Regions from separate parts of the Homo sapiens genome. Here regions 2, 3 and 4 are each linked to region 1. The links come from fine-mapping of genetic effects on plasma protein levels. Region 1 holds a variant in brackets. A gene starts in each other region. All regions are shown on their forward strands.

Region 1 (8,096 bases):
TTGTACAACCATCACCACAATTTAGTTCCAGAATACTTTTTATCACCCTAGAAGGAAACTCTGCACCCATTAAGTCATCACTCCTTATTTTCCTCTTTCCCCCAGCCCCTGGCAATCACTAATCTGCTTCTATCTTTATGGATCTGTCTATTCTGGATATTTCATGTGACTAGCTTTTTTAAGTCCTTCAGAATCTTGCCCCACATCTTATTTACCCAAATTTATTTTCTGTATTTCACAAACTAGAATATCTATTGCAAAAAAAAAATAGCCTACTCACCATTTCTCCATACACATCATGCTCATTTCTACCTTTGAGTCATTGGTAGGCTGATCCCTGCTGCTGGAATTCCCTCCTTTTTTCTCTCTGTCTATACAAATTATTTAAAGTTCTTTCTTCCACTCAGCGAAACCTTTCCTAACCACTCCAGTAATGCCATCCTGTTTTCCCAGACTCCTGGTGATTACAGTCAGTGCCACACAGATTATCACTTAGTGGTTCCACGTGAGTATTAATTTTATCTACTCTATTTGAATATAAGCATTAAGTAGTACTCTTTCTCATACATCCTGCCTATTCTAACCCTGTGTAAGGTGCACAGAAGTTGCTTAGTAAAATGCTTATTTAATGATTAATAAAAATTATAATCGATAATATTTAATGAGGACTTATTTGACAAGTACTACGCTAAAAGCTTTACGACATTATTGTATTTAATCCTCATAAAAATTATCTAAGGGATTCTATTCTTTTATAAATGAGAAAAATAGAAGGAGAAAGTATGTAATTTAACCAAGTTTATGCATGTTGATAATTCTTCATAGACCAGGGATTTGACTTAAAGCCTATCTGACTCTAAAGCCCTTGTTTTTGTTGTCATGTTTTGTTTTGTTTTTGAGATGGAGTCTCGCTCTGTCACCCAGGCTGGTGTGCAGTGGCGCAATCTCAGCTCACTGCAACCTCCACCTCCCAGGTTCAAGCGATTCTCCTGCCTCAGCCTCCCCAGTAGCTGGGACTACAGGCACCCGCCACCACGCCCAGCTAATTTTTAGTAGAGACAGGGTTTCACCATGTTGGCCAGGATGGTCTCGATCTCTTGACCTCGTGATCCGCCAGCTTTGGCCTCCCAAAGTGCTGGGATTACAGGTGTGAGCCACTGCGCCTGGCCTGTTGTCATGTTTTTTAGAGACAGCATCTTGCTCTGTCATACAGGCTGGGTGCAGTGGTGCCATTATAGCTCACTGCAGCCTCAAATTCCTGGCAAAGCCCATGTTTTTTAACCTTTATATTATCTGTATATGTATTTGAATAATATGACAGTATGAATAAATATGTTAAGGGCAACTACCACTTGTGATAATGTAAACAAAGTACCTGGAAGTGCCCAATAAATGTTAGTTTTTGTTCTTCAATGCATGAAACAGGCAAAGCTCAGACAAGTACTGGAGAGGCAACAGCAAATTAAAGAATTAAGTGGCCAGAAATAATTTTTTGAATCACACTGTTAACAGTGGGAAAATCTCTATAGTGGAAAAGCTGCAAAGTTTTAAAAGATTCTCTCTGAAATAGTTTTTATATATTATTTCAGAGAGGTTATATATTAAGGAGCAGAATTCTAAAATCCTGTCTTCACCTTGCTCTTTACAAAATTTCTAGTCTGGGAAAGCCAGAAATAAATCAATGAATACTGGAAGCTATTATGGGAACCAAGTAACTTCCTGAAGTGAATTACTCTAAACTTAACGAACCATTCTTCCAATCTTAGGGCTAAATGTCATCTAAAGCCAAGAGAAATTTTTACCTGATTTAGGACTTCGGAGTTTTACACTCTAAAAGAAAAAAAGAAAGGAAAAGTGAAAGAAGAATATGTATACAAATTATACAAACTCAAAGCAAAAAATGGCATTTTTGAACTTATATGTAATATAGCTGTAGAGATAATTATGAAATGTAGACCCTATTTTTCCTAATTTGTAAGTGTGCTGAATTATGAAATGGCATCTTTCACTCTTACACTGATTTTTATATCCCATGGCAATTAGTCCTAAATTGATCCCCTTCTGACTTATTTCTGTCCCACCTGAAACATTTCCCTGAAAATTTAATTAGAGGTAAGTTGCGGAAATTGAAGTTACTTCATAACATTGGAAGAGTGACTGTTCTTTCCTCTGGGAGTTGTTAAAGTAAATATATGTGCCTATTATTAATGACAATAATAATTACTAGTACATTAGAATTATAATTTAAAAGGCAGAGAATATTTGCCTATCAGCATTGCAATTGTAGGTACTTTAAAATGTTTAATTATTTTTCTGATCTCTCAAATTTTAAGAGAATTGGTTCACAGACTATACAGAAATGCATAACATTTTTAGATACACTTCTATTTTTCCTCCAGAAGCAGGACACACCTACTTTCAATAATTATTTTCTATTTAATCCACAAACCCCTCCCACCCCCATCTCTGACTTTACCATCAACCACACTATTCCAAAAGGTTTATCTTAAGTAATATGCACACCTGTCATTCTCTATAACATATTATCACAGCAAACATGATATAGCCTACCAAATGACTACAGTGAACAAGCTTCCTACTTAAGTATGAAACATTTATTTTTGCCTTAACTATCCTTCAAGAATCAGCTCAAATGTTTCCTCTTTCACTAAATCTTCCTTGATCACTTCCAACCTGGAGGCATCTCCTACACTTGAAATTCTTTATCTTTCATATGACATTGATCACATTTGCTTTGTTATAATAAATATAGGCAAAAATAAAGATTTGTACACATCCTATATCTCTACTACTAGACAAGAAGCTTCTTACAGGCAAGAATTGTGTCTTATACATCCTTTTTATCCCAACATCCTCTAGCACATTGTTCTATATTTAGTATGTGCTTAGGATTTATTGAATGATGGGTGTTAAAAATACAAGGAGTAGAACTGTAGTCTATTGAATCTAAATGAGTAGAGTCATTAAAAAATTATTGACCTTGCTTGGTCTAAGTATCACAGAGTCATCAAATTTCTTTGGTTCAGATGTTCCACCCCATTCCAGTGATGTTCCAATTTTTACCTTCACAGCTGAGGATAAGGATTTGGGAACATTTGGTGAGAATTCTCCTGGAAGAAAGTGAATATAGTTCGGTTCTTAAGAATAGTATTCTTTTAGACATCAAATGTTGCTCAGCAAATAATACATAAAACATTGAAAGGACCTGAGAAGTAATCTAGTTAATTCACACTTCATTTTATTTTTTGAGACAGGGTCTTGCTCTGTCACCCAGACTGGAGTGCAGTGGCACAATCATGGCTTACTGCAGCCCCCAACTCCTGGGCTCAAGTGATCCTCTCACCTCCACCATCCAAATAGTTGGGACTACACATGCATGCTGCTATTGCTCTGCTAAATTAAAAAAAAAAAATTAGAGATGAGGTCTCACTATGTTGCGCAGGCTAGTCTTGAACTCCTGGCCTCAATGAACTCCTCAAACTCAAGGCTCACACATCAGCTTCCCAAAGTGCTGGAATTAAAGGCATGAGCCACCATGCCCATCCCACACTTTATTTTATACTTACTGAACTGTACTCACCAGCTTCCTCAACCACAATAAATGATTCAGGTGTCC[A/G]TACAGGAAGTGGAGGGGGGATTTCATCATCTATCCTTGGAGCAGTTGCTATCCAAAATGTCAAAAATATTGTAACAATTGTTAATTAGAACAATCCAAAGGAAATTCTTATATTCTAATATTAAATATAAATTTACCATAATTTATATTTAAATTCCGTTGAAGCAACATTATCAGTAAAGTTGACACTTGTTCATTCAAGGAAAAAGCAAAATAAATTCTCTTAAGGTACAAACCCAGGAGGTTTTTGCTTATTCTTTAACATTTATTGTTTTAAAAGCTCAAAAGTAGGGCTGGGCGCGGTGGCTCACGCCTGTAATCCCAGCACTTTCGGAGGCCGAGGCGGGCAGATCACAAGGTCAGGAGATCGAAACCATCCTGGCTAACGTGGTGAAACCGTGTCTCTACTAAAAACACAAAACATTAGCCGGGCGTGGTGGCGGGCCCCTGTAGTCCCAGCTACTCGGGAGGCTGAGGTGGGAGAATGGCGTGAACCCGGAAGGCAGAGCTTGCAGTGAGCCGAGATTGCACCACTGCATTCCAGCCTGGGTGGCAGCAGGACACTCCGTCTCAAAAAATAATAATAATAATAAATAAATAAAAGCTCAAAAACATTTTGATTGAGTCACGGTGTATCAGTTAACATAAAATATTATATTAATTTTGGAAGCTTTGAATTAACTTTTACATAACTCCTTTTGTTTTACATAGACTATATAATAAAACATTATAAAGTGCTTTGACGTGTAAAAGGTTCAGTTATACATTAGGTAAAATCATAAAGATTTCAGTATCTCTTCATTCTATACAAAATTCAAGAATATGGGTATTTTTCCATTTTACAAAACAACAGTATAGGATAGTCTTCTGTATTTCTATACAAACATTCAGTTTTTATTAAACATTTTAAATGGTATTACAAGAAACTGCCACCAGATGGCACATGACGATATTGTTACAATCCCTGAAAATAAGGGTATGTTTTTATTAATTAATTTTTTTTTGAGACGGAGTCTCGCTCTGTTTTTTAATGATGCAGATGCTCAGAGAAGTTTAAGGTATAAGAAAAGAAAATACATTTAAATGTTTAAAAATGTATAAAATAATCTAATCACAGAAGGAACATCTTAGATCCAGATAAGATATTTTTGCAACAAAGCTACAAATGATCTACACAACTATTTATTAAGAAACTCTACAATAAATAATGTTATAGAGCAAAAGTTTTCTCCACCTCCTATCTATGTAGAATGTGCTTTACAAATTATTTGATGATATACCTAAGGGAGTTAAACTTGTTCATTGCTTTCCCTCATCATCTTCCACATCAAATTATTGTCATCATCTCTAACAGGGTGCTCATTTCTACTTTCAAACTAATCAGTAAAACAGAACAATATGCATTATATGCAAAAATACAGAATTATAAAAGAGACAAAACATGAAAGTAAAGGTATACATATGATAAAATTTTTACACAAAATACTAAACATGTATTGTCATCTACGAGATTACTACAAAAGAGCAAGAAATCAGGTTCTCCCCTTCCAAATCCTGCAGGAAGATAATTCAATTTTTAGCAATATGTTCAACTCATTTTAGCCACATAATTGTGCAACAAAAAATCTGGGTGCTATTGATCAAATTTTTTTCTGCTCTTCCTTTGGAAGCTGCTTCTATATGTTAAGAGTAAATTCTGAAGCTAGGTGTGGTGGCTTGCACCTGTAATCCCAGCACTTTGGGAGGCCAAGGTGGGAGGATTGCTTGAGGCCAGATTTTCAAGACCAGGCTGGGCAACATAGCAAGACCCCATTTCTAAAAAAAAAAAAAATTAGCCAGGCATGGTGGCGTGTCCCTGTGGTCCCAGCTACTTGGGAGGCTGAGGTGGGAGGATTGGTTGAGCCCAGGACATCAAGGCTGCAATGAGCAATGTCCACACCACTGCACTCCAGCATGGGCAACATAGTGAGATTCTGTTTCAAAAAATATTTTTAAAAAACAGTATATTGTGAGCCTTTGATATACATTTCTAGAAATGAGGCGTGCCTTCTTTAGAAGCACTCCTGCTGGTACAGATCCTGTACCAGATCTTGATTGCCTCCATTGTTGCCTGTTTCATGGAATATTATGTTTGATGTTGCTATTTTCAACTTATTACAGCATTAAAACACTCCTGGAATGTATTTATTTGAGGAGTAGCAGGAAGAAGAAAGAGAAGGAAGCAGGCTAGGCGTGGTGGCTCATGCCTGTAATCTCAGCACTTTGGGAGGCCGAGGCAGGCAGATCACGAAGTCAAGAGATCAAGACCATCCTGGCCAACATGGTGAAACTCCATCTCTGCTAAAAATACAAAAATTAGCCGGGCGTGGTGGCGCGCGCCTGTAATCCCAGCTACTCAGGAGGCTGAGGCAGGAGAATTGCTTGAACTCTGGAGGCGGAAGTTGCATTGAGCCAAGATTGCACCACTGCACTCCAGCCTGGGTGACAGAGCGAGACTCCATCTCAAAAAAAAAAAAGAAAAAAAAGAGAAAAAAGAAAGAAAGAGAAGAAGCAGAGGAGAAGAGGGAAGAGGAGAAGAAACCAACTATTCTATAGAAACAAAATGAAATCTAAAATTCTATGCAAACTTTAAAAAATAACTTACCTAGTACAGCTGACTCCTGGTTCAATAGTGAGGAAATATTGGTTGGAGAATTCAGTGATAAAGAATCATGTGAATTGTAATAAGAGAAGAGGGATGTAGAGGATGTTGGCAACAGAGAAGAAGGAAAAACAGTTCCATCTTGCTTCTCAGGTAAATCAAGAGACATCTTAGAACTGGTACCACTTGGAGGCCATGATGAAAAATAAGGATTTTCCACTAAAGGTATGTAAGAATATACACCAAGAGCACTAGAGTCATGGTGCTTTACATTAGAGGCATTACGTATTTGGTGTTTAGAGTCATATGGCAGTGAATAATTCAGTTCTGCTGAAGAAACATGCATTACTTTTTGAGCCTGCATCTCTACAAAACAAGAATCATGTGGTTGAGATTCCAAATAAGAAAAGTTTTCCTTGCTGTCCACCTCCTTGGTTTCTCTCTGCTGTATCAATTCAAAAGGAGTTGATTTGGTCCGTGTTATTGGCACCTTTGAATTAAAATATCTTCCTGCTGCATTTACAGGTTTAGAATTAGAACATCCCTCAAACAAAAGAGAGCCCAAATCCAAACTTTGATGCTTCTGAAGAGGCTCCCCAACTATTGGAAATGCCTTTGTCTGCCATTTCATGGTTGTGTCAGCATTTTTGTCAAAACTGTAATTTAGCTCCAGAAAGTCAAAAGAAGTGCTTGATTTAGCAGGGTGCAAAACTAGCTCTTCTTTTGCACTTATTTCAGAAGTCCTAAAGTCAAAGGAAGAAGATTCTTTGATTTCCATTTTTGTCCTTTGTTGGTTCATCATTTTTGCTGCTTTTGTGGTACTAAAACAAAAAGAAAGCGTAATGATGACACCATACCCCAAACAGGCCGCTTCCTAGCATCACAATGATGTATAAGCATGAGATTCATCTCCCAGACACAATTAGTCAACATTTAGATATATAAAATTGTACTCACCTTTTTGGTAAATTAGGAGAATAAGAGTCTGCTTGGAGAGTGTGATTTTTCTCAGGAATACAATGCTTTGCTTGACTCTTTAAAAGAAATAAGTCAGAGGCTGGTTTTCAGTGAAGCAATGTCAATAAGATATTTTAATATTTAGAAGGCTGAAAAGTAATTTTTCAGGAAATAAAAAGATTTAAAATAATTCATGAAAGAGTTAGATTAGCTTCCAAAATATTGAACTCAGCAAGAACTCGTTCATATACTGAGATGGCCAGAATAAAGGATTAATAGTATTATAGAAACTAGAAAGGATTTGTGTATATCATCATCTTTTCAAATGTGGGAGTTTTAAAAATGTTCTTTGGTGGGTAACTTTAGTCTCAAAAACACTCTGCCTTTAGAAATTTCAGCATCTCAGCCCTTTACAGGTACTTATTAGGTCTCTGGACCTATTTCATCTTGTTCTACTCTTTTCCTCCTCACTATGCTCTAGGTATACTGGTTTTCTTGCCATTACTTTAGCATGCCAAACTTATTTCCAAGTCAAGGCTTTTACACTTACTATTCCCCCTGATTAATATATTTTTGCTCCAAATTTTGCATGGCTGGCTCCTTCTAAGTAATTAGATCTCTGCTTAACTGTCATCTGCATAAGGAAACCTTCCCTGACCACCCAACCTAAAATCACATTTCTTCCCCTGTCCAGCCATGCTCAATCTTCTTCTTTTTTAAGAGACAGGGCCTCGCTGTATTGCCCAGTCTGGCCTCAAACTTCTGGGCTCAAGCAGTCCTCCTACCTCAGCCTCCCAAGTAGCTGGGACACTACAGGTGTGTACCACAGTGCCTGGCCTCAATCTTTTTTTTTTTTTTTGA
Region 2 (6,467 bases), not on the chromosome of region 1:
CTGGGTGACAGAGCAAGACCCTGTCACTAAAAGAAACAAACAAAAAAGTGTCAGGGGCTGGGCTGGGTAGTTTTCACAGATGACCCGATTTAATCCTCAGGACGCAGCCTTGCCAGGAGGCGTCCTCACCCATGACCCAAAGCACACGGAGAAGTCAGTAAGGGGCCAAGTCCTGTCGAAGGCCCAGAGCTCAGCAGTGGCAGCGCTGACTGGAGCTCACAGTGGTCCCACGCCAAAGCAGAGGCTCTTATTTATGCTCCTGCCCTCGGACGGGGCCAATAAGCAGCCGGGTTGGGGATATCTCATAAAACACAAGGGAAGCACACACCTGAGGTGGGAGTGGTGGCCCCGGGAATGACCGAATGGCGAACGCAGTGAATAGATCAGGAGGGAAAAGAGGCATCCTGGAATGAAGACCACTGCGGCCGGGGTGGCCACATCTGGGTCAGGACCCACAGGACCCCAGTCATGCCCACTGCGCCTTGCTGAGTGCCCTGTGCTGTTACCAGTGGGGAAACCGAGGCATGCCACCTGTGAGAGTCTTGTCCGGCACAAGCGCGGGCACCTGAGGCACGAGTGTCAGGCTGCGGACACCTTGCTCTTATCTTTCCCGCCTGGGTCGGGGAGGGTGGCGTCCCGAGGGCGTGCCTGAAGAGCCGGGACACGGGGGGAGAGGCTCGGCTCCCCTCCTGCCTCGCTCAGCTCCCCCTCCCCTGTGACGAGCGCCCCTCTGCCCTCTGGTTCCCCCGCAGTCGTCTCCCTGGGATGCCTTTTGGCCCTTTGCTCTTTGCCTTTTGCCCAGAATCTCCAGTTCTGAGTCCTGAGTGACCCACGGGCCAACCTTAAGAGGTGGCGCTGAGGCAGGAAGGCACGGCCCTGACAAGGATGCTGCCTCAGGTGCCGGGGAGCAGGCCCCGGGAGAGGGGCCGAGGTGGGGAACCCCCAGTCGCCTGCCACAGTGAAGGGGCACCAGGACCCCCGGGGCAGGAGCCTCGAGGGGGTGTCAGGGCGGCCCCAGGGGTGCCCCTCATCTTGTCCTCCCAGTGGTGTCACACCCCGGTACCCAGCAGGGCCCAGAGGGACTGTCTTAGGCTTGGCCTGGGTGAAACCACCCTCCCCAGGCCTTGGCATCCCCAGGTGCAGGCTGGCTGGGCACAGAGGGCCAGCCGGGCACAGAGGGTCCAGGAGCGGGCTGTGGTCACAGTGTACACAGAGGGCCCAGGGTCACGGGCAGCCCAGGAAGAGGCTCCCTCTCTCCTCGATCCGGGAGAGTGAGGCCAAGGCCTCCCCCACGGATGGTCTGAACAGGGCTCGGGGAGAGCCCTGGAATCTGGGCAGAGACCCAGGCGGGCACAATCCCCACCCAGGAGGGATCCTGGAGACAGAAGAACTGTCCTCACTCGAACAGGTACACTTTGGATATAATGAGAAAAATATCACCAGCTCATCTAAACTTTGACGTCGTAAAGCCAAGGTTAGTCCCACATGGGGCTCATCCCATCCTTAGGAAAACTCGAGTGAGGACCAAGGATGCCTGGGCAAGGCAGAGCCGCCACGCAGACTCCCCACGGCCAAGGTTTGGGGTTCTGGCCAGCCTGACCCGTCATTCTACAGAAACACGCAGCCCCAAGGACCGGCTGAGAGGGGACAGAGGTCCTGCCTGCCCAGGAGCAAAGAGGGGACTTGGGCCAGGGGAGGAGTTGGGGCCCAGAGAGGAACCCAGGAGTTCGAGCTGCCCAAAGCCACACAGCTCAGGGTAAGGGGCAGAGCTGGGGGCCAAGGCTGGGCCTGCCACAGCACCCCCCGACCTGCCAGGGACTGAGAGTGAAAGGTCCCTCCAGACCCCTCGCTCCGGGACCCCTGGGCTGCCAGGGCCAGGCCCGCCTCAGCACCCCCCGACCTGCCAGGGACTGAGGGTGGAAGGTCCCTCCAGACCCCTGGCTCTGGGACACCTGACCGCCGACCCCACCTACCTAAGAACCATCCTGGCCGCCAGCCCAGTTGTAGCACCGCCCAGACGACTGGCCAGGGCGCCTGTGGGATCTGCATGCCTGGAGCAGCCCCACCAGAGTGCCGCCTTCTCCACTGCTCAGGCGGAGGTGAGCGGAAGGGAAACTGTCCCAGGTCAGGTTGAAGGGAGGGTGCCCGCCCCTTGCTCCCGCCCCCTCTTCCTCCACATCCACGTGGGCGAGAGTGACAGAGGCAGTGCTGGGGGAGGAGGGGTGAGGAGGGGGTAGGACTGGGGAGAGGGTGGGGGAGGGAGAGAGAGACAGAGACAGGGAGACAGAGGAGATGGGGAGGAGGTGGGCCCGTGGCCCCCACGCCCTACCCCGTGGGGGTCTCCCCAGCTCAGGGCCCCTTCCTCCTCTGTGTCTCTGCTCACTGCTGTGGCCTCTTTCCATATCCCGCCCGAGCTGCCCCTCCTGAGGCTGCCGGGTGGGGGCAGGCCCTTCTCCTCCCCCATCCCCCCCATCTCCCTGGGGGCCGGGCCTCCCTGCCTGGGGAAGGTGGGTGGCCCCCTCTGGGCTCAGGTTCCTGGGCTGCAGTGAGGGGTGGGCTCAACCCCACTCCCATTCTGTCGGAGCCTCTGGGAGCCTCCCGGCTGCCCACAGCCTCTGCCCCTGCTGGGGGCAGGTGCCTGGCCTCTGCCTTCCCGGCCCATCCCCCTTCGCTGGGGCACAGGTGACCCTACTGAATGACAACTGTCCATGGCTAATCGGCTCCCCCTCAAAGCTTCCACCTTGTGGATGGCCTCACACCATGGCCACAGTTCCAGATCTTTCCACCGTGTGATGCCTGCAACAGCCTGACGGGGGGGCTGGGGCGGTGGCAGGGGCTGGCTGTGAGGCTGACCTCCCCTTCCAGCCTTGACCTTCTTCCCCGGGGCCCTGCCCTCCAGCCCACTCGTGCCAGGGTGGGGTGGTTCAGGGGGTCCAGTGCCTGGGCCTGGCTGGCGGCCCGGCGTTTGTGAAATGGCTTGCTTATCTCCTTGTATTCTGTGCTGAGCATTTTATTACAGCGAATGGAAAACAGGAGAAATGAAACTGCTGATATTAGTGATGAGATGCGTCAGGCTCATCAGCTTAAAATAACCGAAGCGAGGCTAGAAACCGCCTGACAGCTGGCGCGGCTGCCTGGCTCCGAGAGACACTCGGCCCGGCTCTGAAGGGAAAACATTAAAGCACCGAAACAGTGGAAAAAGAGCATCAAAGATGATGTCTGCGAGGCGCGGCCACGGCGAGGAAGCTCTCGTTTATGAACAAAGGGCCACTCCCGGGTCTCAGAGATGTGAGGCTGTGTGGGTGGCTTGGTGGGGAGGTGGGGGGGGCCCAGCTGGCCAGGTGGGCTTGGCGGGGGGCCCCCAGGGAGCCTGGCAGCACCCACTGTGCTGCCAGACAGCTAAGGTGGCCCGCAGCAACTGTCTCCTGGCACACCCACCCTTGTGCCTCAGGGGCTGGGGCTCTGGGGCTGGAGAACTGTTGGTTGGTAGGTGCCTCCATAGCCCTGTGCCTCGCCCAGGCAGTGGATAAGTGGCTAAGCTGCCCCTGCTGGCTGTACTTGTCCTGAAGGCAGATTCTGGACAGAACCTCCCTCTGCCCCCAGCCCTGTAGAGCCTTGTTCCAACCTCTGTTGAATGCTGTCTCTGTTCCAGGGCAGCAGTGGGCCTTCCTCAAGGCTCTGAGCTTTGTGGGACGAAGCTGTCCTCTGAGGACTGGGAATGCCACTGTGTGGGCTGGAGGGGAGGCTGGGCCCAGGAGGTGGGCTCTGAGATGGGAGATGCTATCAGACCCCTGGAAGGTCTCCTCACCACCAAGGCCCTGCCCCCAAAATTCCACCTGCCAGGGCTTGGACACATGTCCTGGAGTAGGGGGCGGGCACAGGGAGAAACCCAGCTTCCATCCTACCCCTTCCTTCCTTCTCCTTCTCCCACCCCTCTCCTCTCTCCCTGCAGTTCTTCCCTGTCACCCACTCTCCTTCCCTCCTCCTCTCAGTCCCACTGAAGGCCCCTGGGCCATGGGAGAGGAGACCTGGTGGGGTGGGCCCAGCGTGGAGCCAGGGGACTGCGGCCACTGAGGCCAGGGCTGCCTGATGGTCTCTCCACATTGCTACTCGCTGGAGCACCTGCAAAGAGACACATGGACCCAGGGAGGGTCTGCAGGGCTGCGAGGGGTCTGAGCCTGGAGAGCACAGGGCCTGCAGGGATGCAGGCATTGGGCATTGGGCCTGGACTAGTAGGCTGAACCTACAGGGTCCTGGGACCCCACCCCGAAGCAGATAGGCGGTCCCAGGGCTCAGGTGTGGGGTGGGGACTCATGGAGCCTGCACCCCAATATCACACTCCAGACCACTTATTGACACCCTCCCCCAAACACATACGGTGTCCCCAACACACGATTTCCAACACACCACACCCCAACACACACAGTCCCCAACACACACACAGTCCCCAACACACACACAATCTCCAACACACACAATCCCCCCACACACAATCCTCAACACACACACAAAATTCCCAACACACACAATCCCCAAAACATACACAGTCCCCAACACACACACAAAATTCCCAACACATACAATCTCCAACACACACAATCCCCCTGCACACAATCCTCAACACACACACACAATTCCCAACACACACAATCCACAACACACACACAATCCCAACACACACACAACTTTCAACATACGTAGAATCCCCAACACACACAATCCTCAACACACACACAAAATTCCCAACACATACAATCCTCAGAACACACACAATCCTCAACACACACACAATTCCCAATACACACACAATCTCAAACACACACAATTCCCTCACACACAATTCTCAACACACACACAAAATTCCCAACATGCACAATCCCCAACGTACACGCAATCCACAACACATACACAAAATTCCCAACGCACACACAAAATTTCCAACACACAATCCTCTGTACACATTGTCCCCAACTCACACACAACTCCCAACATGCACAGAATCCCCAACACACACACAAATCCCCAACACACACAATCCTCAACACACACACAATTCCCAATACACACACAATCCCCAACACACCCAATCCCCAGCACACACACAGAATCTCCCCCACACACAATCCTCAACACACACACAATCCCCAACACACCCAATCCCCAGCACACACACACAATCTCCCCCACACACAATCCCCAACACACACACAACCCCCAACACATACACAATCCCCAACACAATCCCCAACACGCAATCTACAACACCCACACACCACAATCCCCAACACACATACAAAATCTGCAATATACACACAATCCCCAACACACGATTTCCAACACACACAACTCCCAAACATACATGCTCCCCAGCACACACACTTTCCTCCCACACACATCCTAAGCCCGTGCCTTCCACCCAGTAGGCTTCCACTGTCTTCTGTCACGAGGAGGAAAGGCAGGCGGAGTCCGGGGAGCAGGGTAGATGGGGCTAAGGGGCCCTTGGCTGGCCGGCCCTGCGCACCCCTCCCCCATCTCCTTTTCTCAGCCTTCCTTCCCAGGGAACCTGGACACCCAGGCCCTTCCCCCACCGCCTGCTCCTTCCTCACAGAGGGTCATACCCCATCCAAATCACTGGCCCTGGGATGGCAGCAGCCAGATTCAATCCAGGGCATTCAGTTAAAAGATAATTTACAACAAGCAAAGTTGTATGTGGTTTTTGTCTGTTTATTTTCTTTTAGAGACAGGGTCTTGCTCTGCACCCAGGCTGGAGTGCAGTGGTGTGATCTTGGCTCACTGCAGCCTCGACCTCCTGGGCTCAAGCGATCCTCCGACCTCAGCCTCCTGAGTAGCTGGGACCACAGGCGTGCACCCCGTGGCCAGCTCATATCTAACATTTTTTTTTTTTGTAGAATTTGGGGTGGGGGCAGAGGAGGTCTCTTTATGTTACCCAGGCTGGTCTCAAACTCCGGGCCTCCAGCAATTCTCCCACCTTGGACTCCCAAAGAGTTGGGATTACAGGCGTGAGCCACCACACCTGGCTGATGGTTGTATGTTTTGGTTGAGTATTGTATCATTTACAATTGAGATAATTGTAGATTTACTTGCAGTTGTAAGAAATTACACAGATGTTTCCTCATACACTCTGCTCAGTCTCTCTGAATGATAACAGTTTGGAAAACCACAGGACAACGTCACAACCAGGTTAATGACTTTGATGTGACACCTCGATCCCATCCTGAGTCCCCGTTTCTGGCTAATGTGTGCCTATCAAAGGCTGCACAATGTGGGCACAAGCGAAGGCTCCTGCATCCCCTGACAGCGAAGCTGCAGAACGTCCCCATCACCACGGGGTCCTCCGGGTGCCCTTGGCAATACACCCACCTCCCTGCTGGTGGCCACGAGCCTGCCCTCCACCCCCATCACTGTTTCATTCCAGCGACAGCCGTGGGAAGGTGCAGTACGCATCC
Region 3 (5,000 bases), not on the chromosome of region 1:
AGTTAATTTCTAAAAGAAAGAAAATTTTGATCTTCCTTTTCACCAACCTGTTTCTCCCACTTTTTAATCAGTTCCTTCACATCTGCTGAATCTGGGTTTAGACATGTTTGAACTCCATTCTTCAGTGTAGCACTGCCAAAGAAATAGCAATGAGATAGTTTTTTCTCATTAATAATTTAAATGCTTCTTCTCAGAAATAATGAAAATCAGTATGAATTGTGCTGAATTTTCTAATGAAACTACTTAAAATTATTTCCTAGGACAAGATGAGTCACTGGTTGAATTTTTTTTTTTTTCTTTTTTTGAGACAGAATTTCGCTCTGTTGCCAGGCTGGAGTACAGTGGTGCGATCTCAGCTTGCTGCAACTTCCAACTCCTGGATTCAAGCGATTCTCCTGCCTCAGCCTCCCGAATAGCTGGGACTACAGGCATGCGCCACCACGCCCAGCTAATTTTTGTATTTTTAGTAGAGACAGGGTTTTACCACATTGGCCAGGATGGTCTCAATCTCTTGACCTCATGATCTGCCCACCTCAGCCTCCCAAAGTGCTGGGATTACAGGTGTGAGCCACTGCACCCGGCCCTGGTTAAATTTTAAAAATTACTTACAGTAGACTGTCTGGAAATAATTTAAATGTTCCTTTAATTTTTCTGTATAGTCTGAGAATAAGAGTAGTCAAGGATGACTTATAAAGACAAAATATGCACACATCCTTCAACCTAGCAATCCTAATCTCTAGAAAGGAAAGAATTACAGACACAATACTGCCACAGTAAGTTTTATTTCAGCAGTAAAAATTTGGAAATAATCTATATTTCCAACAATAATCCTGGTCATATAAATTATGGTTTATCCATATGATGAAATACAGTTTGGCCATTAAAAATGACATTAAGTAAAAATGACATTATTAGAGATTTACTGACACGAGAAAATGTTCATGATATAGTGTTAATGAAAAAGCAGATTACAAAACAGTGTATAGTATATGATTTAATTTTTGTGCTTATATACGTGTATGTAAAAACATATCTATGTTATGTGCACACGAAGCAAGTAAGGAAGATTTAGAAAACTGTATACTAAGGGGTTAACAGTATTTGTCACTCAAGGGTAGAATTATGCGTGATTTTTATTTTCTTCTATTGTGTTACCTGCATTAAACATTTTGTACAATAAACATGTGTCATTCTTGGGGCCTAATCTACCAGAAATTCCTTGCATTTTTAAGGAGAAGAAAAGAAAGGAGCTGCCCAAATTTATGGAGGGGGTAACCATCTGATTTTTAAGTGTTTGTATGGGCAAGCACTCCAAGGGTAAAACTCATGCTAAATTTAATGTTCTTGCCAATATGGTGCATGCATGTTAGCTGGGTTGTTACTTACATGATTTCAATTTTCTCGCAGGAAGGGCTTGGGGCAAATTGTTTAAGGTCTTTCAAGGATTGTAGGTGGATAGTCCCTTGGTTGGTGCTGATGCAGGAACAGCGACCCTTTCTCACTACTGGGGTTCCTGAGGGAAAGAAAAAGATAGAACACATCAGTATAGGCCAATGTTTCAGTTTAGGTGATCTATCAAAATGATACACTTGACTGAGTCATGATTATTGCTATCATTTACCGAGTGCCTAAAAATAATCACCACAAACCTTTGAAGGAGGTATCATCTCTATTTTATACATAAGGAAACTAAGGTTCAGAAAGATTAAGAACAAAGTCATACAGCTTTTAGGGAGCAGGGGCAGGGTTTTAGCCCAGATCTCTCTGAGTCCAAAGGCGTTGCTCTTAACTACCACACCGTAAGTCCGTGGGAGAAAAAGAGACTTTCACAATATTTAATAAATGCCTATCACAAGACAAACAGATAACTAATTCATGTATGCTATGCTGATCACAGTTTCTTAAGCAACTCCTAAACCATCTATTATTTATTATCTGACCTTAAGGAATGGAACTGGTGTTGGTGTTGAATAGAAAGCACTCCTTTGTAACCAATCACCACTTTCATCCTCATCCTCTCTCCTCCCCACTGCCTTGCTTTTCAATAGTGTTTTAAATTTTTGAAAACCCCTTAAAATACATTATCTTAATTCTTAAATTCATATATTTACTTGGTACTTATTGTACCATATGCCATACATTGTGTAGCAGTCAGAAAAGGTATAACTACAAAGTTCTATTTTACAGATGATGAGGAAACTGAGGTCTAGAAAGATTAAGTAATTTGTCCAAGGTAACAAAGATAGTTAGTAAATAGATTAGGGACAAATTCTCTGATTATTGGTTGGATCCTTAATTGGTTAGCCACAGATATACTTAGCAAAAAACAGTATCAGGGAGAAGAAAATAATTTAGGAGATAGAGTTCTCATTATTACCCAGTTCAATGAACATTTATTGAACACTTACTAGGAATTCATACACCTAGACTACAAAGACTTGTGTTTGACTTGGCAGATCGAAGTTATGAACTTTGGATAACTGGTCATGTCACTGAGAAGCTTTTATGACTGACCAAATATTACTCTTCAATGCAGGCAGAACATTCACCTTTATCTGGCTAATCAAGATTCTTTTACAGTGAATCACTTCTCTTACTTTACAACCTAACTCAGAACCCCTTACCTTGCACTCCAATCAGAACCAGCAAGATGATGCCCAAGAGGAAAAGAACACCACTTTTCTTCATAGTGATAGAATGGAGTTCCAAGTCACTCCTGTATTGGATTTTGAGCCTGAGAAATTCTTTAGAGAACACATTTTGGGGATCATATTTATTTAGGATATTCATTTCTCTCCTAAACTCTGATTGGCTAGTATCTTTAGCTGAGCTAACTAAATTGACCACAAACTTGATTGTGCTGGGGGAAACCCTAGTCTCAGATCCAAGGGAATTTCTGCATGTTTTTATTTCCATTTCACATAAATGGGTGGTTTATAGTAAGGGATGTGAAACTAGCAACACTGATAGCCTTTGGCACATTCACAGTTGCTCACCTGTGTGAAGAATAGGTTATATAATGAATATACTAATGTTATACAACAAAGGTTGGAGATGTGGTTTCCAGATGGGAAATATTAAAGTCCAGATAAATAATATACTTTTCAAATTCCCTTACTATTTATGGCATATTCTTCTGTATAATAGATGGCTACATTGATATTTTCTTATATTGCCCACTTAACAACTTAAAGCACCTTAATTTCCTCTGGGACCAGGTCATTTTCTACTAGTGGTAAGCTCATTCTGTATCATTCCTGCTACAGTATTATTTTTTAAACTAATAAATTGGTTAGAATAAGGGGTCAGTTGCATGTAAGAGACCCAAATTAACAGTGGCTAAGAAATGCAATAAAAATGAAGATAAATAGCTGGGACCTAATTAAAGAGCTTTTGCACAGCAAAAGGAACAGTCAGCAGAGTAAACAGACAACCCACAGAGTGGGAGAAAATCTTCACAATCTATATACCTGACAAAGGACTAATATCCAGAATCTAGAATGAATTCAAACAAATCATTAAGTAAAAAACAAACAATCCCATTAAAAAGTGGGCTAAGGACATCAATATACAATTCTCAAAAGAAGATACACGAATAGCCAACAAACATATGAAAAAATGCTCATCACTAATGATCAGGGAAATGCAAATCAAAACCACGGTGTGATACCACCTTACACCTGCAAGAATGGCCATAATCAAAAAATCAAAAAACAGCAGATGTTGGTGTGGACTTGGTGATCAGGGAACACTTCTACACTGCTGGTGGGAATGTAAACTAGCACAGCCGCTATGGAAAACAGTGTGGAGATTCCTTAAAGAACTAAAAAGCAGAATTACCATTTTATCCAGCAATCCCACTACTGGGTATCTACCCAGAGGAAAAGAAGTCATTATTTGAAAAATGTACTTGCACATGCATGTTTATAGCAGCACAATTCACAATTGCAAAATCATGGAACCAACCCAAATGCCCATCAATCAATGAGTGAATAAAGAAACTGTGGTTTATATATACACAATCGAATACTACTCAGTCACAAAAAGGAATGAATTAACGGCATTAGCAGTGACCTGGATGAGATTGGAGACTATTATTCTAAGTGAAGTAACTCAGGAATGGAAAACCAATCATCATCTGTTCTCACTGGTATGTGGGAGCTAAGCTATGAGGACACAAAGGCATAAGAATGATACAATGGAGTTTGGGGACTTGTGGAGAAGAGTGGGAGCGGGGTGAGGGATAAAAGACTACAAATAGGGTGCAGTGTATACTGCTTGGGTGATGGGTGAACCGAAATCTCACAAATCACCACTAAAGAACTTATTCGTGTAACCAAATACCACCTGTACCCCAATAACTTATGGAAAAATAAAAAAAAAAAAAACAACAACAGAAAACAGTGGCTAAGATAGAAGCTTATTTCTCCCTGAGAGATGTAGGTGGATTAGCACTTGGATAGTGGCTCTTTCCCATGAGGTCTTCCAGGCTTCTCCTTTCTTGTGTTGTCACCATCTCTAGATTGCTGCCCTCATGCACATGGCCAAAGGTGGCTTGCCACCATGTCCAATTTCCAGGTATAGGATGATGAGAAGGCAGAAAAAGGGCATGTCCCTCCTTTTTAGACATCCTAGAAGTTGCACCCATCATTTTCTATCACCTCCCATGGAGGCAGGCCTTAATCACATGGCTACACCTAGTTGTAGGGGAAGTTAAGAAACGTCATCTTTATTTTGGTTGACTAGCTAAAGATTGGAGATTTCCTTATTGTAAAACAATGTTTCTCAACGTTTTTTTTCATTATGGACTCAGCACTGCATGCGTGTGTGCGCGCATGTGCACCCACACACACACACACACCCCCCCACATTTCACCTTGCTCTGAGAAAAAATAAAATGAACTGAAAACTAAATTTAATTTCTTCCTGAAGAGAGAAATCAAATGCTAAGAAATAAGATTTTGTTGGGTAGGGTTGAACCTTGGTAGGCCACTAGTCAT
Region 4 (8,096 bases), not on the chromosome of region 1:
AATGGGGAAACTGGATCTCCGGGTGCAGAGTGGAAAAGGAACTTGCCCAGAGTCACACAATGAGTGGGGCAGAGACAGGATCATGGGACTCTGGCCCAGGCAGTGAATTCAGGATTTGCTCTGTACCTCCTGGCGGCAGTGTCATGGAGGTAGCGTCCAGGGGCCCCTATCCTGGTAGCATCTTCTTCAAGGTTCCCACTCTCACCTGCCCTGCTCCGTCTGTGTGTTCCTCCGATAGTCCAGAAAGATCACTTTTGTTGCTTCTGTGGCAGGCTGACTTCCTCTAAATGTCACTGGCACTGAGAAGGATTTCAGGCAATGTGCTCCCCTCCCATGTGTGTTTGTCCTCTGAGACACCAGCCTGCTGGGATGCGGGGCACGGGGTCCACAGCTGGGAGACCTAGAACGCCATGGCTGGCTGGCTTGGTGGATGGATGAAAGAATGGCTGGGTGGGAAGTGCGTGAGTGGACAGTTGGCTGGATGGAGGTCTGATGAATGCAGAAACAGCTGAATGAATGGATGCATGGATGCATGAATGGATGGGTTATTGCAGCTTTTCTTGAAAACTATCCCTATCCCTCCCACCCACCTGGTATTCCAGGTGATTCTGAGACCTGGGATACCCAAGGTTTTGAGCACCTGCATCTGGGAGCAGAGGAGAGGAAGAGGATGTCATGCTCTCAGTGAGGAGGGGCTTTCACAACTCCCTCACCATTTCTCCCTTTTCAAGGCCTGCCCAGGCCTGGTTTTGTTGCTGGCTGACGTATACCCGATATAATGACACCTCTCTTCCCAAGCAAGGGTGCTCAATCTGGCCTCCTTGCTGTCATCTGACCCCAGTGGCACAGCCTTGTCACTCCCAGCTGGAGAGGCCCTTAGAGAACACTGTCTGGAGGCTAGCCTGCTTCCCCAGGAGACTTCTCAAGTACGAGGCACTCACTCTGTACAGAGAAGCCCTGTGGGATGCTCCAAGAGTCACACGGCTCTCATCTCCCAGAGCTGAGATTCCTTTCTGGTCTCATCTGGGGAGATGTCTCTGGTCTCAGTGTTGCCTTTGAGCCCTGGAGCCCATGTAGACTGTAGGGGTGGTGGTAGGGCTCCTCTATGTGGAATCTCCTGTGCTTCCCTGGCTACTCCTTCTTCCACCCCGTGGGCCTCTCTCCTGTCTCTGACCTCTGACTCCCAGGTCTGTCTGTCGGTGTCCCTGAGAGGCATGGCCCCAGGATTGCAAAGATGGGGCTGGACCTTGCTCAGTTTGGCTGAGAGAGGAAGGCTGGCCTGGAGGTCAGATTCTGTATGGACAGAATGAACAGATGGACCCTCAGCCCTGGCTGCTGAGCCTTTCCTCACATATTTATTCATTCTCTAAACAAATATTTATTGAGGGACTGCCTTGTGCCAAGCAGCATGCTGGACACCACAAAAACAGTGGAACCCAAAATAGATGTGATCCCAGTCCAAGAACATGGACAAATTTGGACAAACCAGCAACTATAAGTCAGGGTGATGAATGCTGTGAGGGGCCACTGCAGGAGGCTACCTAACCCAGCCTGGGGTCAGGGAAGGCTTCCTGGAGGAAGAGGCGTCTGGACCCAGATGGGAAGCCAGGTGGGCAGAGGAGAGAGAAGAGTGTGCCAGACCAAGGGAAGGGCATGGGTGGATGGGTATTTTCCCCCAGGCAGTAGAGCTGGGCCCTTTGCCCCACTCCACCTCCCCCAGCCGTGAGAGCTGGTTCCCCACAACTCCCTTCCCCCCAGTGACACTGGATTCCTTAGACACCTGGATGCTTGAACACCTGCCTTGGAGAGCAAAGAGTGGGAGGCATGAGACGCTGGCTCATTCAGGGAACTGACCCAAGCTTAGTGTCGCTGAACTATGGAAAGCAATGAGGCTGATCCTGAGAGCATCAGGTTGTTAAGTGGAGGTGAGCAAGGAGACCCCCTAGGCCACAGAAGAGAAAATAGATCCTGCCATTCCACCTCCCCCTTCCTATTCCTGTCCACCTGGCTAGACAGCAAACGGACAGCAGACAGATCTATGGGTGCCAGGTGCCTTTTTTTTTTTTTTTAAGGCTAGTTAAGCAGTAGGAGTGGAGAAAGAACAAAGAAATCTGTAACAGGTTGTGATCAATTAGTTGTAAACACCAGGCGGCTTTATTGGTAGCATTGCAATCTGGGGGTGGAGCAGCTTTACTCTGACCACACTCACCCTCTCGCTCACACTCACACTCACACACACCCCAGGCCCTGTCCTGGCTGGTCAGGTCTGGTGCAGAGGAGCTGGAAGCCTGGTCCTTCCTTCTGGTCCTCGGTTCCCCAGGTTAGGTAATAATTCACAATGCTTGACTCGGACTCCGGGCTCCCTCTGCACGGTCATAGGTTAACTGCTGCGGCGCTTCATCTAGAGGAGGAAGGAGAGGAAGGATCATGGGCTGGAATCTTAGACAGGAGCTCAGAGGGAGGAGACAGGGCCAGGGAGGGCCAGGCTTGCCTTGGCTGAGGTCCTCTGCAGTCTCTGGATGATGCGTTCTACCCAGGGCTGGTCTGGGGGTGCACAGAGCTGGCGGCCCCTCAGTGTGGTGAACCTGGGGTGAGAGGCCGGAGAGAATGGAGCCCCAGAATCCAGCATGCCTGGGGACCATGTCTGGGAACCTGTTTCAGGGATTTCCTTGAAGGGGTTGGGCTTGGCATGGAGAAGGGGAATAAGAAGGTGGGAGTCTCAACAGGGGCTAAAACGGGAGATGAGGCTAGACACCCTCCCCACAACTCACACTACAGCAGGCACCCTGCAGCCATCCTTGATGAGAAGGTAGTGGAAGTTCCTCACGATGTACCCAGGGATGGGTTTCTGGGTCACAGACAGGCAGCAGTCTTCAGCATCATTGGTGCCACTCAGAGTTGGGGCTGGGATGGGGAAAGAAGGTGACAGGACACAGGGACCCTTGAGGGTGGCATGGCCATGGCCCTAGCTCGGATTGAGGACACCTGTGTGTGTGTGTGTGTGTGTGTGTGTGTGTGTGTGTGTGTGTGTCTGGTGGGGTCGGGGAGGAGTTAGACCTGGTATTCAGCCATTATGCACCAATATGGCTCTGGCTCTACTGGTTGCTAAATATATTGTCATACTTCTAAACTGTTTTGTAAATAACCACTGCCCTGAGCCCCACAAATGACTTCCTGCTGCCCTGATCACCCCAACCTCTCTCCCAGGACAATCCAGCAAGTAAAGAGTTAATGCAGGTCACAGTGTGGGAGGGGCGTGGGGTAGGGTAGGCTGGTGTTAGGAGCCTTATTAATTGCTAAAATTTTTGAATATCAGCCTTGGCTTAGTGTCTGCCATTCTCCCTACCTTAAGCAAATCTCCTTCTGCCTGGGAAACGGAGGCAGCAGGAAATAGAGCTTGCAGAGACAGTCACAGCCATAGGCCCCAGGATGTGCTAAAAGACACACCCGCATTGGGATTCAGGGGCACAGGGACACCCACACTTACAGGCACACATGCAGGGACCTGCCAGGCTCACCGAAATATACAGACCTAAGCATTTGCCTGAACTCACCATGTCCCTTACGTCCAGTGCCAAGCAATCTGAGATCTAGACATTACCCACTGCCAGCCCCCCACTGCCTCTGACCCTGACTCTCCCTTCAGCCTTACCTGGGGAAGTCCAGAGAACCAGCAGGCTGAGGGCCAGTAGCAGGGCCATGGAGGGTGAACAGAGGCAGGCCAACGGTGAATGTGTGAGCGCCAGCTGTCTGGGTGTGTGCAGGATCTGTGTGAGGCTGCAGGGCGACTGGGATGCAGGGGTGAAATGCAAGGTGTGAGTGATGTGAGGCTGGGAATGTGAGCCCTGCAGCTGACTCCTATTTATGGCCAGAGCTTCACTTTCTCTGCCTGAAATTCCCCTTCATGTCCCATTCTGTGATTCCCCTGTTGCCCCCCTCTTTCTGGCAGAATCGCACCCTGCCCCCCTTCTTCCCCCTGCGGTTGCCCTTTCCTTCTGCTTTCCTTGGCTCCTGCTCTGAGAACTTAAGTCTGCAGTCTGGCCCAGTAAAGGGGGCTGTGCACTGTTTCTCCAGAGAGAGGGATTGCCCTGTCATCCCATTGATGGCATTTGCATCATCAACCATGAAGCTGGGGTTCAGAAGTGATGGTCAAAGGTGGGGCCCACAGTGAGGAACTGTGCTCCCTTCCTTAGGTTTATCCCTTGTCCTCACTGGTGCTTCTTTCTTGGGCTGGTGGTGAAGAAGGCTCCCTGGCACCCTCAGGACAACCATGAGATCCTGGGGTGGCCTCCAAGGTCATCACTGTGCCTGCCCACTATGTGGGAACCAGTCCTTCCCTTGGGGCAAGCAGAGCTGAAAGGCCAGGTACCTTGGGAGGAGGCCCAGGACCCCCATCCCACATCTCAGGCCTCTGGGGCTCAGCAAACCCTCCCCTTCCTCTATTTACTGTTTTCCTATGTCCAACACCTGGGTCAAAGGAACAGCTGGAGGGAGACTGGCTTGGAATAGCCCCCTTCATTTTCCCCCTTTTCTCAGTCCTGGGAACCAAGAGGGGATTTCTAAGGAGAGGGGCTGGCCAGCTCATATTCAGACAAATCTTAAAATTTCAAGGAATCGGCCGATGGGGGAGGGGACAAGTGACTTCCCATCCTTATGAGAAAGGTCAGAAGAGAAGGCCTTGAAAGAGAAACTAAATGTGAAACGCCCAGTCACCCGTCGTCACCCAAACCCTAGACCCTCTTTTGGATGGAGAGAGGGAGGGGGAACATTTCCCTCTTAAATTTCTGACTTAGCTTCTTTCCATTCATTAATCATAATAATAGTAATGGTATTTTTGATTGTTTACTATGTGCTAGGCTCTATGTCAAGGACTTTACCACTATTACCTTGCTTAACTTTCCCAAAACAATACCATTGATGTAGTTTTTCTTATTTTCACATTATTATTCTTATTTTACACATAAGGAACATGAGGCTCAGAGCACAAAGCCACACAGCTAGTAAGTACTGGAGCATGATTTGGACCCAGGTGTGCTCTAGGGTTTGCAGTCTTTACCTCCACTCCACACCGCCTGTCTGCCACTTGGTCATGGCACAGCACGGGTAGTCACGGTGCAGAGGAGGGAGACTCTGCAGACAGAGCGCCTAGCTTGGGATTCAGATTCCACCACTTACTAACTGCGACAAGGTGAAAATTCTCCAGTTTCTGTGTCTTAGTGTCCTTATTTGTAAAATGGGAATGGTAGAAGATCTACTTCTTAGGATTAAGTGAGGAACCCTGAGTAAAGCCCTTAGCTTAGAGGCTGACGCACAATAAGCTCTGTTAGCCATTGTTCTTCTTTTGTCCTTTTTTTTTTTTTTTTTTTGAGACAGAGTCTCACTCTGTCACCCAGGCTGGAGTACAATGGCACGATCTTGGCTCAGAGCAACCTCCACCTCCTGGGCTCAAGGGATTCTCCTGCCTCAGCCTCCTGAGTAGCTGGGATTACAGGCACCCACCATCATGCCCGGCTAAATTTGGTATTTTTAGTAGAGGTGAGGTTTCACCTTGTTGGCTAGGCTGGTTTCGAACTCCTGGTTTCGAACTCCTGACTTCAAATGATCTGCTTGCCTCCGCTTCCCAAAGTGTTGGGATTACAGGCGTGAGCCACCGTGCCTGGCCTTCTATCCTTTTATTCAGGTATCTGTTCATTAATTCATCCATCCACCCCTCTTTCCATTGATCTATCCATTCTTCTGTCCATGATGGTTCTGGTTATTCTGTTTGCCCCAGCCTATCCATTCTCCACTCTTCACGGCCCTGCTCTGCTCCCTGGAAGGCTGACCTCTGCAGATAGCATTACTTAGGGTCACCTGCTTTCTGGCTTCTGTTTGGGGCTGGCCCATGGGAAGCAGCAACTGATCAGTGGTGGAAGGAGAGAGGGGTATTAATTCCCCAAATCCTTCATCTTGCTGCAGTTCTGGCAGTGAATAATTTCCCCTGTGGCAGTTGTTCTCAAAGAGTAGCCTTTGGGCAGCAGCAGCAGCATCACTTGGGAGCTTGTTAGAAACACGAATTCTTAGATTTTACTTCCCACTTACCACATCTGAGACTCTGAGGATGGGGTCCAGCAAACTGCATTTTCACATACCCTCCAAGTGACTCTGATATGTGCTAAAGTTTGAGATCCAAACGAGCCTCAGGGATACCATCAAATATACCTCATCACAGGAGTCTCAGGAGGAGAATAGAGAGAACAGGGCATTAAAAAAATTGAAGAAATAATGACAAAACATCTGAAATCTGATGAAAAGTATGTATATACATATCCAAGAAGTTCATTACGCCTGGCCTGCTATGTTGTTATGTTTATCAGAGATCTTTGTTTCTTTGTGTGGCTGTAAGTTATTACTTTTTGTCCTTTTGTTTCATTCTGAAGGTCTCCCTTTAGCATTTCTTTGTTTGTTTTTTGTTTTTTCTTTCTCCCTTTAGCTTTTCTTATGGGCAGATGTACTATTAATGAACTTCCTAAGTTTTGTTTATCCAGAACAGGAGTTTGAGACAAGCCTGGCCAACATGGTGAAACCCCATCTCAACTCCTGACTACTCAGCTACTCAGGAGGCTGAGGCAGGAGAATCCCAAGGCTCACCTTGGCCTCCCAAAGTGGTCTACAGATTGAGGCCCACTGATCTACAGTGATCCTTTTGGGTTGCCTCCCTTCCACGGGTCTATCTCTATTCTTTTTTTTTTTTTTTTTTTTTTTTTTTTGATACAGAGTCTCAATATGTCACCCAGGCTCTAGTGCAGTGGCACAGTCTCAGCTAACTGCAGCCTCTGCCTCCTATGTTCAAGTAATTCTCTTGCCTCAGCCACCCGAGTAGCTGGGATTAGAGGCACGCACCACCACGCTTGGCTAATTTTTTTTTTTGAGATGGAGTTTCACCCTTGTCACCCAGGCTGGAGTGCAATGGCACAATCTCAGCTCACTGCAACCTCCGCCTCCTGGGTTCAAGCGATTCTGCTGCCTCAGCCTCCTGAGTAGCTGGGATTACAGGGACCCGCCACCACACCCAGCTAAGTTTTTTGTATTTTTAGTAGAGATGGGGTTTCATCATGTTGGCCAGGCTGGTCTTGAACTCCTGACCTCAGGTGATCCACCTGCTTTGGCCTCCCAAAGTGCAGGGATTACAGGCGTGAGCCACCATGCCCGGCCTAATTTTTGTACTTTTAATACAGATGAGATTTCACCATGTTGGCCAGTCTGGTCTCAAATTCCTGACCTCAGGTGATCCACCCGCCTCGGCCTCCCAAAGTGCTGGGATGACAGGCTTTGGAAACACTGTTCCCTCCTCTTGCCCCTTCAAGCCTTTGTATGATAATGGTTTCTCACCATTGCTAGACCCCAACTGCCTATCATCCCATGTTAGTTCCTTAATCCTGACCTAATCTCTTAAATTGTCCCTTTATTAAAATCTTTCCAGTTAAATTTTTTTTGAGTGTATGTGATATTGTGAAATATATATCTGGTCTTCATCTTCCTTTTCTGACATATAGCTCCTAAAATCCTTGGAATCTTGGGAGAGATTGTGTCTTTTGTATGCTAATGAGATAACTGGTGGCTGGGGGCCTCTAGACAGCCTCTGGATGGGAGCTAGTCAGCAGAAGAACCAGCCACATGGTTAGAGAGTTGGAACATTCTCTAACATTCTGTAGTGGTGGGGAGTCCCACCCACTCCCCACCTCTGGGTAGGGGAAGAGGGGTTGAAACTTGAGTTGATAAACCAATGGCTGATGATGTAATCAATTATACCTAGGTACTGATACTTCCATTAAAAACCCGAAAGGACTAAGTTGGGGTGGGGGCTTCTGGATAGCTGAAAACATGGAGGTTCTGGAGGAGGGTGCCCAGAGAGGGCATGAAAGCTCCACACCTTTTTTTCCCCATACCTCACTCTATGCATCCCTTTCATCTGGCTGTTTATCTGTTCTTTGTAATATCCTTTATAATAAATGGGTAAGCATAAGTAAGTGTTTCTCTGACTTCTGTGAGCCGCTGTAGCAAATTAATTGAACCCCAGGTGGGTTGTGGAAACCCTTATTTATAGCTGGTCAGTC

Direction of the effects. Positions count from the first base shown, and alleles are read on the strand shown. Strength reflects both the effect of a copy and how common the allele is.
In carriers of allele A in region 1, the plasma level of the protein whose gene starts at base 2,105 in region 2 tends to be higher than with G alone (weak association).
In carriers of allele G in region 1, the plasma level of the protein whose gene starts at base 2,748 in region 3 tends to be lower than with A alone (weak association).
In carriers of allele G in region 1, the plasma level of the protein whose gene starts at base 3,838 in region 4 tends to be lower than with A alone (weak association).

What was found. A credible set is the group of variants that fine-mapping cannot tell apart. PIP is the posterior inclusion probability: the model's chance that the variant is causal. The UK Biobank Pharma Proteomics Project read protein levels with antibody pairs (Olink). The fine-mapping took linkage between variants from a reference panel, not from the people measured, so its PIPs are less certain.
Region 2: it holds the start of PDCD1, and the variant in region 1 is the best candidate, but not a certain one, in a credible set for the plasma level of the PDCD1 protein (UK Biobank, PIP 0.52).
Region 3: CXCL9 starts here. The variant in region 1 is the best candidate, but not a certain one, in a credible set for the plasma level of the CXCL9 protein (UK Biobank, PIP 0.70).
Region 4: CCL19 starts here. The variant in region 1 is the best candidate, but not a certain one, in a credible set for the plasma level of the CCL19 protein (UK Biobank, PIP 0.64).

The regions. Positions count from the first base shown.
Region 1 is chr1:113,831,309-113,839,404 of GRCh38, forward strand. PTPN22 (protein tyrosine phosphatase non-receptor type 22) reads right to left here. Exons shown (of 21, transcript NM_015967.8): 12 at 7,236-7,312; 13 at 6,282-7,099; 14 at 3,602-3,685; 15 at 3,001-3,131; 16 at 1,803-1,830. The region is part of intron 3 of AP4B1-AS1 (AP4B1 antisense RNA 1); the gene reads left to right. Among named protein-coding and RNA genes, the nearest start is that of AP4B1-AS1, 23 kb to the left of the region's middle. The variant A/G (reference allele first, on the strand shown) is at 3,638.
Region 2 is chr2:241,856,790-241,863,256 of GRCh38, forward strand. PDCD1 (programmed cell death 1) reads right to left here and starts at 2,105. Exons shown (of 5, transcript NM_005018.3): 1 at 1,974-2,105. The coding sequence starts at 2,049. LOC124908032 (a long non-coding RNA gene) reads left to right here and starts at 2,283. Exons shown (of 2, transcript XR_007088436.1): 1 at 2,283-3,288; 2 at 6,108-6,467. RefSeq lists an enhancer at 1,311-2,273.
Region 3 is chr4:76,004,762-76,009,761 of GRCh38, forward strand. CXCL9 (C-X-C motif chemokine ligand 9) reads right to left here and starts at 2,748. Exons shown (of 4, transcript NM_002416.3): 1 at 2,625-2,748; 2 at 1,387-1,513; 3 at 48-132. The coding sequence starts at 2,688. It overlaps SDAD1-AS1 (SDAD1 antisense RNA 1), which reads left to right. Exons shown (of 3, transcript NR_125906.1): 3 at 312-1,181.
Region 4 is chr9:34,687,439-34,695,534 of GRCh38, forward strand. It overlaps CCL19 (C-C motif chemokine ligand 19), which reads right to left and starts at 3,838. Exons shown (of 4, transcript NM_006274.3): 1 at 3,653-3,838; 2 at 2,772-2,904; 3 at 2,492-2,585; 4 at 2,132-2,401. The coding sequence starts at 3,701. The coding sequence ends at 2,381. It also overlaps a transcript of PHF24 not described here.